2 linked regions of the Homo sapiens genome follow. The protein of the gene in region 1 purifies or fractionates together with the protein of each later gene. This does not show direct contact. Each region holds a gene or a part of one and is shown on either strand. Other genes may lie near its edges.

Evidence for each region. Proteins that work in one complex are often made in the same cells at the same time.
Region 2: the proteins of TCHH (region 1) and CCDC127 purify together in Homo sapiens (co-immunoprecipitation; one large-scale study listed by IntAct). This does not show direct contact.

The regions. Positions count from the first base shown.
Region 1 is NC_000001.11:152,104,087-152,109,391, forward strand, and holds the end of TCHH (trichohyalin), read right to left. Parts: coding exon 3,299-5,305; 3' UTR 2,231-3,298; downstream 1-2,230. UniProt on the Homo sapiens protein: Intermediate filament-associated protein that associates in regular arrays with keratin intermediate filaments (KIF) of the inner root sheath cells of the hair follicle and the granular layer of the epidermis.
Region 2 is NC_000005.10:204,654-209,148, forward strand, and holds part of CCDC127 (coiled-coil domain-containing protein 127), read right to left. Parts: intron 1,306-4,495; coding exon 644-1,305; 3' UTR 1-643.

The sequences.
Region 1 (5,305 bases):
AATAACCTTGGTGATAGCTATTCCAGCCTCATAGTTTTAAATACAAAATAATGAAGGCCCAGAAACCTTAAGTGGCTTGGACAAGGACATACAGATAGTAAAGTGAAGAAACAAGCCACTGTATGTATACTGCCTGGAACAATGCCTGGCACATAGCAGGAGCTCAATAAATACTTATTGAGTGAATAAATGAATAAACCCAAGGCTTTTGATTCCTTGTAGCATTCTTTCTACTCTACCATATAAATTATGGCAGATTTAATGGGAAAACGATTTATATTTGAGCAACCAGAACCTGCTTGCACAATGTCAAAGGATAATGATCATCATGATACAGATAGGCTTACCTAGCAACATAATGCCATCTTACTGATACATATTGTATTAGTTTGCTAGGGCTGTCATAGCAAGGTACCATAGACTAGGTGGCTTGAACAACAGAAATTTATTTTCTCACAATTCTGGGATCTAGAAGTCCAAGATCAAGGTGTTGCCTGAGCTGGTTTCTTGAGAGGGCCATGAGGGAAGGACCTGTTCTAGGATTATATCCTTAGCTTGTCGATGGCCATCTTCTCCCTGTATCTTAACATCATCTTCTCTCTGTCCATGTTTGTGTCCAAATTTCATCTTCTTATAAGGACATCAGTCATATTGGATTAGGGCCCAAACTAATAACCTCATTTTAATTTAATTACCTCTATAAATACCATATCTTCAAATATGATTACATTCTGAGGTACTGAGGGTTAAGACTTCAACACGTGAACCTCTGTGGGGGTTGGGAGGTCACAACACATAGAGACCAGCTTTTCTATCACTGCATATTAAACTCTTGATTGCGTTCCCCAGCAGCAGCCTAAGTGATGCTAATAGAGTTCCCAGTTTATAATTAAGTAGGCAATTGCCCAACAGCCTCCAGGTTCTGCAAATGCATGTGTATCATTCAGGTGGAGCAGGAGGCTTGGCCTGCATGTTCTCCTGCCAGCATGCTAAAATAACAGCTAGAGGGCACGGGCTGGCTGACACATTTTTTTTTAAACTACATGTTATTATAACTGTGATGAAACAATACTTTCTTCTTTGGAAATTGGCTTTACCTTCTTGTAAAGTGCTACAAGTCCCCAGGGCTTTGCTTATTTTTACCATAATTATCATTGTTAAACTGTAGCTTAGCTGATGAAGTGTATATTTCAGTGGTATCCTGAGGTTGGGCATTTATAAGGAGGCTCTTGAATGAGTACCCATAGAGGGTCCTGAGGAAAGTCAGTGAAGCTCTTCCAGAATTTCTTTGAAGGTGCTTAAGTAAGAAAAAGAGTATACTTTAGGGGAAAAATAGTTTTGCAGTTAGAAATCATTTGAAAGAGATGAAATTCCAAGACAATGTCAGGGGATTCCCAGGTTATGTCTTTGGTGGGCATCTGCCATTTGTTAAAGTGAGAGAGAGAGAAGCTGTGCTTCTTGAAGAAAATGCCATCTTACTCTATCAGAATGATACTCAGGAGCCATAAGCCTAGCTTGTCTCCACCACTGATCAAAATGTTGAGTGACTATAACTTTAGGGCATCTTCTCATCATGATCTTAGAAATGACATTGTTTTGATCAGGGCCTTCTTGGGCTTATTTCTAGTTAGTAAACTATGAATACTAAAAATAAGAATCCAGCAGGCAGCACAGGCGTGTTTGTTATTATCTAATAAATTATTATCTAACAAGATAATAATTTGATACTTCAGCCTGATTACTATTAAGTACCTTCTGACTCAGTCACCTCATGGATTATGTTGCTTAAATTAACAGGACATCTACAGTTTTTATAGTGCTGATCTGAAGTTTCAGGCCATTTTCTATCATTGGCTCATCAGACATCAGAGACTAAGAAGCTGCTGCATTCTCTAAAGGAAATATTAACAAATATTGGGAGCACCAGTATTTGTCATGACCAGTGAGTCGCTGCAAGAAATGGCATAGAAAGCTGTGGGGTCAAGAACAAAAACACTCTGGAAGGCAATCTCAGTGTGGGGATGGAAATAGAGTTCAGCCTAACTGCAAAAAAAAAAAAAAAAAAAAAAAAAAAAAAGGTTGGGGAAAAACAAAGAATTCTCTCCCCTCTTTTTTCGTATTTGGACATAGATAAGTAACAAAATGCCCTTATGTGATTGGGAACTTGTGTTAGTTTCCAGACAATGAGATCTTGTTATGATTGACGCAGAGTTAAAACAGACAAAAGTAGTTACTTGCCAAACATTTATTATTAATTTTTCACAGTCCAATTATTTCAACAAGAATATATCTAAGGTATTATCAATAGGCCTCAAATGATTGTGGGCAAATGGGTCTTGTCAAAGGGCCTCTAGAAATTTGCCCCTATGTTCACACATTTTTCCCTTTTACACCCCCAACATGCTCTATGTGATCTCTTATTGGCCCTAGAGTAAGACAGATGTTTATGGGATTCTGAGCAGCTTCCTTCTAACAAGCTAAAATTAACAAAGGTTCATAATATTCTGAAACTCATCAAAACTTGGGGAAGTAGAATGAACACTATAGACTACAACAGACACAGTTTTAAAATTTGAACTCTGAAGTTGAGAAACACCTCATTATTTCTTCATGAGATTATGTGTTTAAGTGGAGTTGAGTTTAAAAAAAATCTAATTTAAATTCTAAATCTTCAAAGCTAAACCTATTCTTAACAGATATTTCTTCCAGTAATGGGCTGATTTTACAGGAAGTTTTTATGCAGAGGTCACTCCCCCTGCACTATTCAAGGGTTATAAAAATTTAGTTACCTGGAATTTGTGCTAACTATGCCACAAAAGATGAAATGCTGTTTGGAGGCAATGATCAATTTAGGTTCAAGAAGAAATAGCAACTTGAACATTAAAAGTATCTGCACTTTCCACAAGATGGGTCAGTCATTAAACAAACCGACCCATTGTTTAGAATCTCAAATCATCCTATTACTCTTGTTACTTCTGAAAGCAATAAATGAACATGTTCCTCAAACAAAATTTCTTAAACAAATTAAATGATTTATATTTTTTTTAAATGCACACCACATCTGCATCAAAGAGCAAAAGAAAGACATCTTGCAGTAAAGAACTACTTGAGGAAGAATAAAAAGCAGAAGTACAAAGTGCGTAAAATGAGCGTAGTTTAAGATTTTGGAAGAAAAGACATTCTAATATCAGAGAGTTTTCCCACAACCAGAAACATCTGAGTTATCACTTGGTACCCAGTGTTTCTCATTTTCCCGTGCTCGAAGCTTTGGCAGGTGTCAAGATATTGGCAACATCACTTAAGGGCGGTATTGAGATCTCTGCTCTTGGATGTACTCATAGAGAGGGCTGGAGCGCACTGGGACACTGGCAAACTGATGAGTGCCGGGCTCCAGAAGCCGCCCATGGCCCTTCCCTTCTTGGGATTTTATCTCCCCGACTTGGCGGTGCCTCTGTTCCTCCTTCTGCTGGCGGCGGATGTGTTCTTCCCGTAATTTCCTTTCCCGTTCCTGGCGACGTTTCTGCTCCTCTTCTTGCCATAGTTCTTGTTCCTCACGACGACTCTTCTCCTGCGTGGCAAACTGCTCCTCCGCCCGGTACTGCCGGTCTCGCTCCTGCCGCAGCCTCTGCTCTTGTTCCTCAAGTTGGAGCTGCTCTTCTTCCCAGCGATACTTTCCGTCACGCTGTTGGGGGCGCAGCTGCTGTTCTTCCCTCTCCTGGCGTAGCTGTTCCTCCTCGCGGAATTTTCTGTCAGACTCTTGGCTGCGCAGCTGCTGTTCCTCCCTCTCCTGGCGGAGCTGTTCCTCCTCGCGGAATTTTCTGTCGCGCTCCTGGCGGCGCAGCTGCTGTTCTTCCCTTTCCGGACGGAGCTGCTCTTCCTCTAGGATTTTTCTGTAGCGTTCTTGGCGGCGCAGCTGCTCTTGCTCCGTTTCTTGGCGCAGCTGTTCCTCCTCACGGAATTTTCTCTCCAGTTCCTGGCGGCGCAGCTGCTGTTCCTCCTGGAGGAATTTTCTCTCTCGTTCCTGACGGCGGAGCTGCTGTTCCTCTTCGCGGAATTTTCTGTCACGCTCTTGGCGGCGCAGCTGCTGTTCCTCCCCTTCCTGGAGCAGCTGTTCCTCTTCACGGAATTTTCTGTCGCGGTCGTGACGCAGCTGTTGTTCGCGCTCCTGGCGGCGCAGCTGCGGTTCCTCCTCGAGGAATTTTCTGTCACGCTCTTGGCGGTGCAGCTGCTGTTCTTCCCTTTCCTGGAGCAGCTGTTCGTCTTCGCGGAATTTTCTGTCGCGCTCCTGGCGCAGCTGTTGTTGGCCCTCCTGGCGGCGCAGCTGCTGTTCGTCCTCCATGAATTTTCTCTCTTGTTCCTGGCGGCGCACTTTCTGTTCCTCTAAACGGAATTTTCTGTCACGCTCTTGGCGGCTCAGCTGCTGTTCCTCCCTCTCCTGGCGCAGCTGTTCCTCCTCGCGGAATTTTCTGTCACGGTCCTGACGCCGCTGTTGCCCGCGCTCCTGGCGGCGCAGCTGCTGTTCCTCCTGGAGGAATTTTCTCTGCCGTTGCTGGCGGTGCAGCTGCTGTTCCTCCTCGAGGAATTTTCTCTCTGGTTCCTGACTGCGCAGTTCCTGTTCGCGGAATTTTCTGTCACGCTCTTGGCGGCGCAGCTGTTGTTCCTCCTCCAGGAATTTTCTGTCACGCTCTTGGCGGTGCAGCTGCTGTTCTTCCCTTTCCTGGAGCAGCTGTTCCTCTTCGCGGAATTTTCTGTGACGCTCCTGGCGCAGCTGCTGTTCCTCCTCCAGGAATTTTCTCTCTCGTTCCTGGCGGCGCACCTGCTGTTCCTCTTCACGGAATTTTCTGTCACGCTCTTGGCGGCTCAGCTGCTGTTCCTCCTCGCGGAATTTTCTGTCGCGGTCCTGACGCAGCTGTTGCTCGCGCTCCTGGCAGCGCAGCTGCTGTTCCTCCTTAAGGAATTTTCTCTCCCGTTCCTGGCGGCGCAGCCGCTGTTCCTCCTCGAGGAATTTTCTCCCTTGTTCCTGATGGCGCAGTTCCTCTTCGCGGAATTTTCTGTCACGCTCTTGGCGGCGCAGCGGCTGTTCCTCCCTTTCCTGGAGCAGCTGTTCCTCCTCGCGGAATTTTCTGTCTGTCTCTTGACGGCGTCTCTTCTCTTCTCTTTCCTCTCTCAGCAACTGCTTTTCCTCTTGGGACTTCCTGTCGCGCCTTTTGGCTTCCTTTTGCTCTTCTCGCTCCAGCTGTTCTTCCTCTGGGAAATGCCTGTCGCGCTGCTGCCAGCGCCTCCTCTCTTGCTCACGATCTCGCTC
Region 2 (4,495 bases), on another chromosome or scaffold:
ACTGCATACAACACACACACATTAGGTAACAACTGCATACAACAAACACACATTAGGTAACAACTGCATACAACAAACACACATTAAGTAACAACTGGATACAAGAAACACTTGGTATTTCCCCTTTATGGAGTGAGAGAGATCTTTAAAATATAAACCCTTGATAATATAATATTACTACTTCCTATTACCTGTTATGCAGTTCTACACATTATCTGACAAATTCTTAATGTAATCTGGTGACAGAGAAAAATAATTTGAGGAGAAAGTATTTAGGGAGTGATGAAACAGACAGAAAATTACTTGTGGTAAGGACCAGTATTGTATTTGACTTTTTAAAAAACCATTTTTACCCTGGAGCTAAAATACGAGGTTATACTGTTCTGCTTAATACAATACTGGCAGCCTAAAAATGCTTCAAGAAACCATATCCCCAACAGCGGCAGAGCATCGGGAGGAGACCCTCTGTCTCTGAGGCTTCGGTGCACTTCTGCTCAGACGGTGGCGGGAGTGGAGGTCGCTGCTGAAGGGTGACGGTGTGGCCATGACACGGGCAGCACGGGAACGGAAGACGCCGGAGACCCAGAAGGCGCATGACTGCCTGGCCTCGAGTCACTAAAAGCAGTTTGATTTCACTCTTGTCTTACTTTTCTAGTATGGCTTCCTCTACTCTCTTAAACTTCTTCAGTTCGACAACGAGTTCCCAGTATTTGAGATAGAGCCACATGAGTCTGCCATTCTGGCGTTTGTTGGTGTTCCAGACATCACCACAGTATGTATCATGCTGAAATATGTCGGTGAGACCGGCTGCCATCTCTAGGTCAGCGGCGACGGGGTCGACGGACGCTCGCACCAGTAAGCTCTTCTCTATCTCCAGCCGCTTGCTGCGAGGAAGAAACAGACTGCAGTAGATATTCTGTCTTTCTGTGAGAACAGCTTCAAATTCTTTCAGCAAAAGCCTGGCTCTCCTTTGCCAGTTTTCTTCCCTTTGCAGGCAGCTCAAATACGCACTTCTCAAAGGCTGCACCTGTCTTTTTTCTTGCATCACCTGGGCCCGTTCCTGTTCCAGAAGCTTCTTTTCTTCTACCAACTTGCGTCCCTGAGAGATAAGGGCTTCTCGGTAACTAGCAGTTCTGTTTTGTTCCTTTTCGAGTTCCAAGGACAACTGAGCGACAGCACGCCGATTTTCTGAGATCATGGCGTGGTACTTGGCTTCCAGATCCTGTTGAAAAGCAGCAGTTCTCCGACGGTAGGCTTCTCTCTCTTTTTCTACTTCTTTCTGGGACTCCCTAGACCAAATCCAACCTGACATGAATGAAGAAAAATACACATAATGAAAAAGTTAGGGCTGAAGTTCTATAATCCTCACTTAAATCATAAGGCAGCTAAGGATAGTGTTTCAGTAAAAGCTTAAGACCTCGGCTGTACCAAGAAGATCACTTCTACGTGAAAATGTGTAACAGGCCAAGTTCTTATCTGAAAACCAGGTAAGGGCTGGGTGACCAAAAGACCCTAACCCTAGCCCTTTCCGTCTTCTAACTGTTTGTTGCTAAGAAGATCTACCACCATTTGCCTGCTCCGGCTCTAGTACAATTGGCAAAGTTTAAAATGTTTGGGTCGACTTCAACTACCGTTGGCCAGGTTCTTATAAAAGTTGTATTTAGCTTTGCCCGGTGGCGACTAGTAAACGGCCTGAGTTTGAGACACTGCTTATGTTCTGATAAGGACACATAAAAATAAAGTGGGTTAAGAAGTTCAGCCTCAAGACACAGTGGGCCTCTTTCCTCAAACTGGAGACTGCTGGAATCTCACGAAAACGGGACGAAGATTGCTGGGAGGCTGGAGGGGGCACTGCCCGGCTCTGCCCCCTACACCAAGGAGCAGCAGGGCTGGCCTGCACTGCAGAGAAATCCAGCGCCTCTAAGACCGGATGACTCACACAGCCTGCTGGCCAGCAGGCACCTGGCTCCGTATAGAGCCACCAACCCTTTGTCCATCCCACAAGTAAGAGTTGGATGTGTTTCAACAATAAAAAAAGACCGTGTGATAACAGTTCCATCCACATTCCGAACTGATGCTGCTCAATAATTTCATGCATGTTGGAGCAACTGCATGCTAAGTCTTAGTTTTCCAAACAGCGACGTGTTCTGCTTGTACATTCTAAAAGCAGCACGGAGTTGAGTCTTCTGGAAAACAGAACTGTTTGGCAAATTTTCAAAGCCCAAGGCCCCAAAAGCCACTGAGAGCAGCAGTCTGGGTTCCCTCGTGTGCTTCTATCCTGTAACCCCTCCCCTACTAACTGTGGGACTCCCTCGTCTGCAGCCCCTTCTAGAACCACTGGAGTTTCTATCAACTTTAATGGTTCTCTTCCTCCTCCTGCTGCCTCCCCCAACCCAGGTGGTGTCCTTGACATTCAATTATTTTCTCCCGGGTCATTAATGGTCACCTTTTTCTTCCAGGTCATTAATGGTCACCTTTGCTTTTCTCCCGGGTCATGAATGACCTTTGTGGGAGCAATTCCATAACAGCAAGATTTCCATTAGCCTGAAAGCCAGTCCCCCTTGGATATGCTGTTGACACTTCACTGAGTAAGCACAAAACCAAACTCATCCTTCCTCAACCAAAAATAGCTGCTAGTCCTACTTCAGATGACAACTCAAACTCACGTCACCTTTATCTCCTCCCTTTGACGAGAGCTCACAGGCAGGGGCCTGACCAGGAAAGAAGCTGTTACAACGTCACTTGATAAGCACTGAGGGGTTTGCAAAGGTATGTGAGGAGAGAGAAGGGAAGGCTCGTCTGGTTTTGGTGAAGTCAAGAACGGCTTCCTAAAAAGGTGAATGAACAAAGTCTAGAAGGCTGAAGGCTGAGCAGAAGCTGCAAGGAAAAGTCACCCGAAATTAAACGAGCAAGGCAGGCGAGAGCATCGGAGAGTGAGAGCTTCCAGGAGCCGGATGTGCCTGGGGACGGGGCTTATGTCAAGGACAAGCTGGAGCTGCCTCTGGAAAGTCACAGGTGCCAAATGAGAGGGGCCCCCAGGAGACCCGGACAAGGAGCACGGGATATGTTCTGCAGCCACGAGGAGTCAAAGGAATTAACGTGACTTAAGAGCATCCAGGAGGTGTGGAGGGGTGGAGGTGGGGCTGCGAGGGGTGGCGCCGAATCAAGAGGAGACAGGGAGCTGCTCCCTGATACAATCTGGGGACGATCTCAGTCGAGTCACATCATTGACACACCAAACCACTGGAAAACTAACACAGACAATGACGCACACGGTTAAACGTCAGACCCCACCATACAGGCTGTGGTTACTGGTAAGTTTTTGGCTGGACAGGGAGCCAGGCAGGGGAGGCTACAGGCAGCTTTGCAGAGGAAAGTGTGGCAGGACAGGCTGGATGTCAGGAAAACCTGAATTCCGAGTCTGACCTGACAGACTTTGGGCACACGCAACTTTTCAAAGCCTCAGTTTCCGGTGAGACTCCTGCTTCTGGGAAGACGGAGTAGACATCCTCCCTATTCTTCTTCTAAGTAAACTAAAAATCCTGGACATCATCTGTAAAACAAGATGACTCTGAAAGATGGAGAGAAGGCAGACTGGCTTGGGTCCTTGGGACCCCAGGAACAACACGGGGGCAAGTCCTCTAGATTTTCATTTTGCCTCATAGATCCCATACTTGGAGCTGAAGACACAGTCAATTGGAAATCTCAACGGGTGCAGACAAAAAAAGAAACTCCAACAAAGCCTGCTGTCTCTGCCCAAAGGACCACGATAGAGGCCTGGCAAGAGAGAAAATGTTCCGACAGTAATCACTCTACATCAGCCAAATAACACAGAAAAAACTACGGCCCCACCTCCACCCACATGGGCAAAGGCTGGATGGAGCTGAGGCTCCCACTCCCACCCAGCAGCAAACACAGGGTGGGGTCGGGGGGAGCCATGTGGGGAGCAGTGCTGAGGCCTTCCCAGCCGGGGGGCACCAGTAGAGGCCGGGGGGCTGGAACTCCCATCCTTTCCTCGGGGGCCCATGGGGGCCAGAGGCTGAGTGGGGAGCCTGGACTTCCATCCTCACCTGGCAGTAAGGAGGCTGCGTGGCCCTTCCCCTGCCAGGGCGCCATTCAAGAAAGCCAGCTAAGACCGAAGGTTTAAATAAAAACCAGTGTTTCAGCACGTAATGCCCCAAATGCGCAGGTTCAAACAGAAAATCACTCCTAGTACCAAGGGCCAGGACGGGTCACACTAAATGAACAAAGATGATCAACAGATGCCAAGACCTGGATGAGAGATGGCAGTATCATCTGACAAGGACTTCAGAGCAGCTGCCATGACAGAGAGCCTAAGAAAATAAACACAAGACGTAAAGAAGAACCAAATGAAAATTCTGGAACTGAAAAACAGAACAACTCGAAGAAAAACTGGAATGACGGAATCAGGACTCCCCCACAAACACAGAAACAACCCTTCGCAGCCTGGCCACACACATCATTCCACAACACA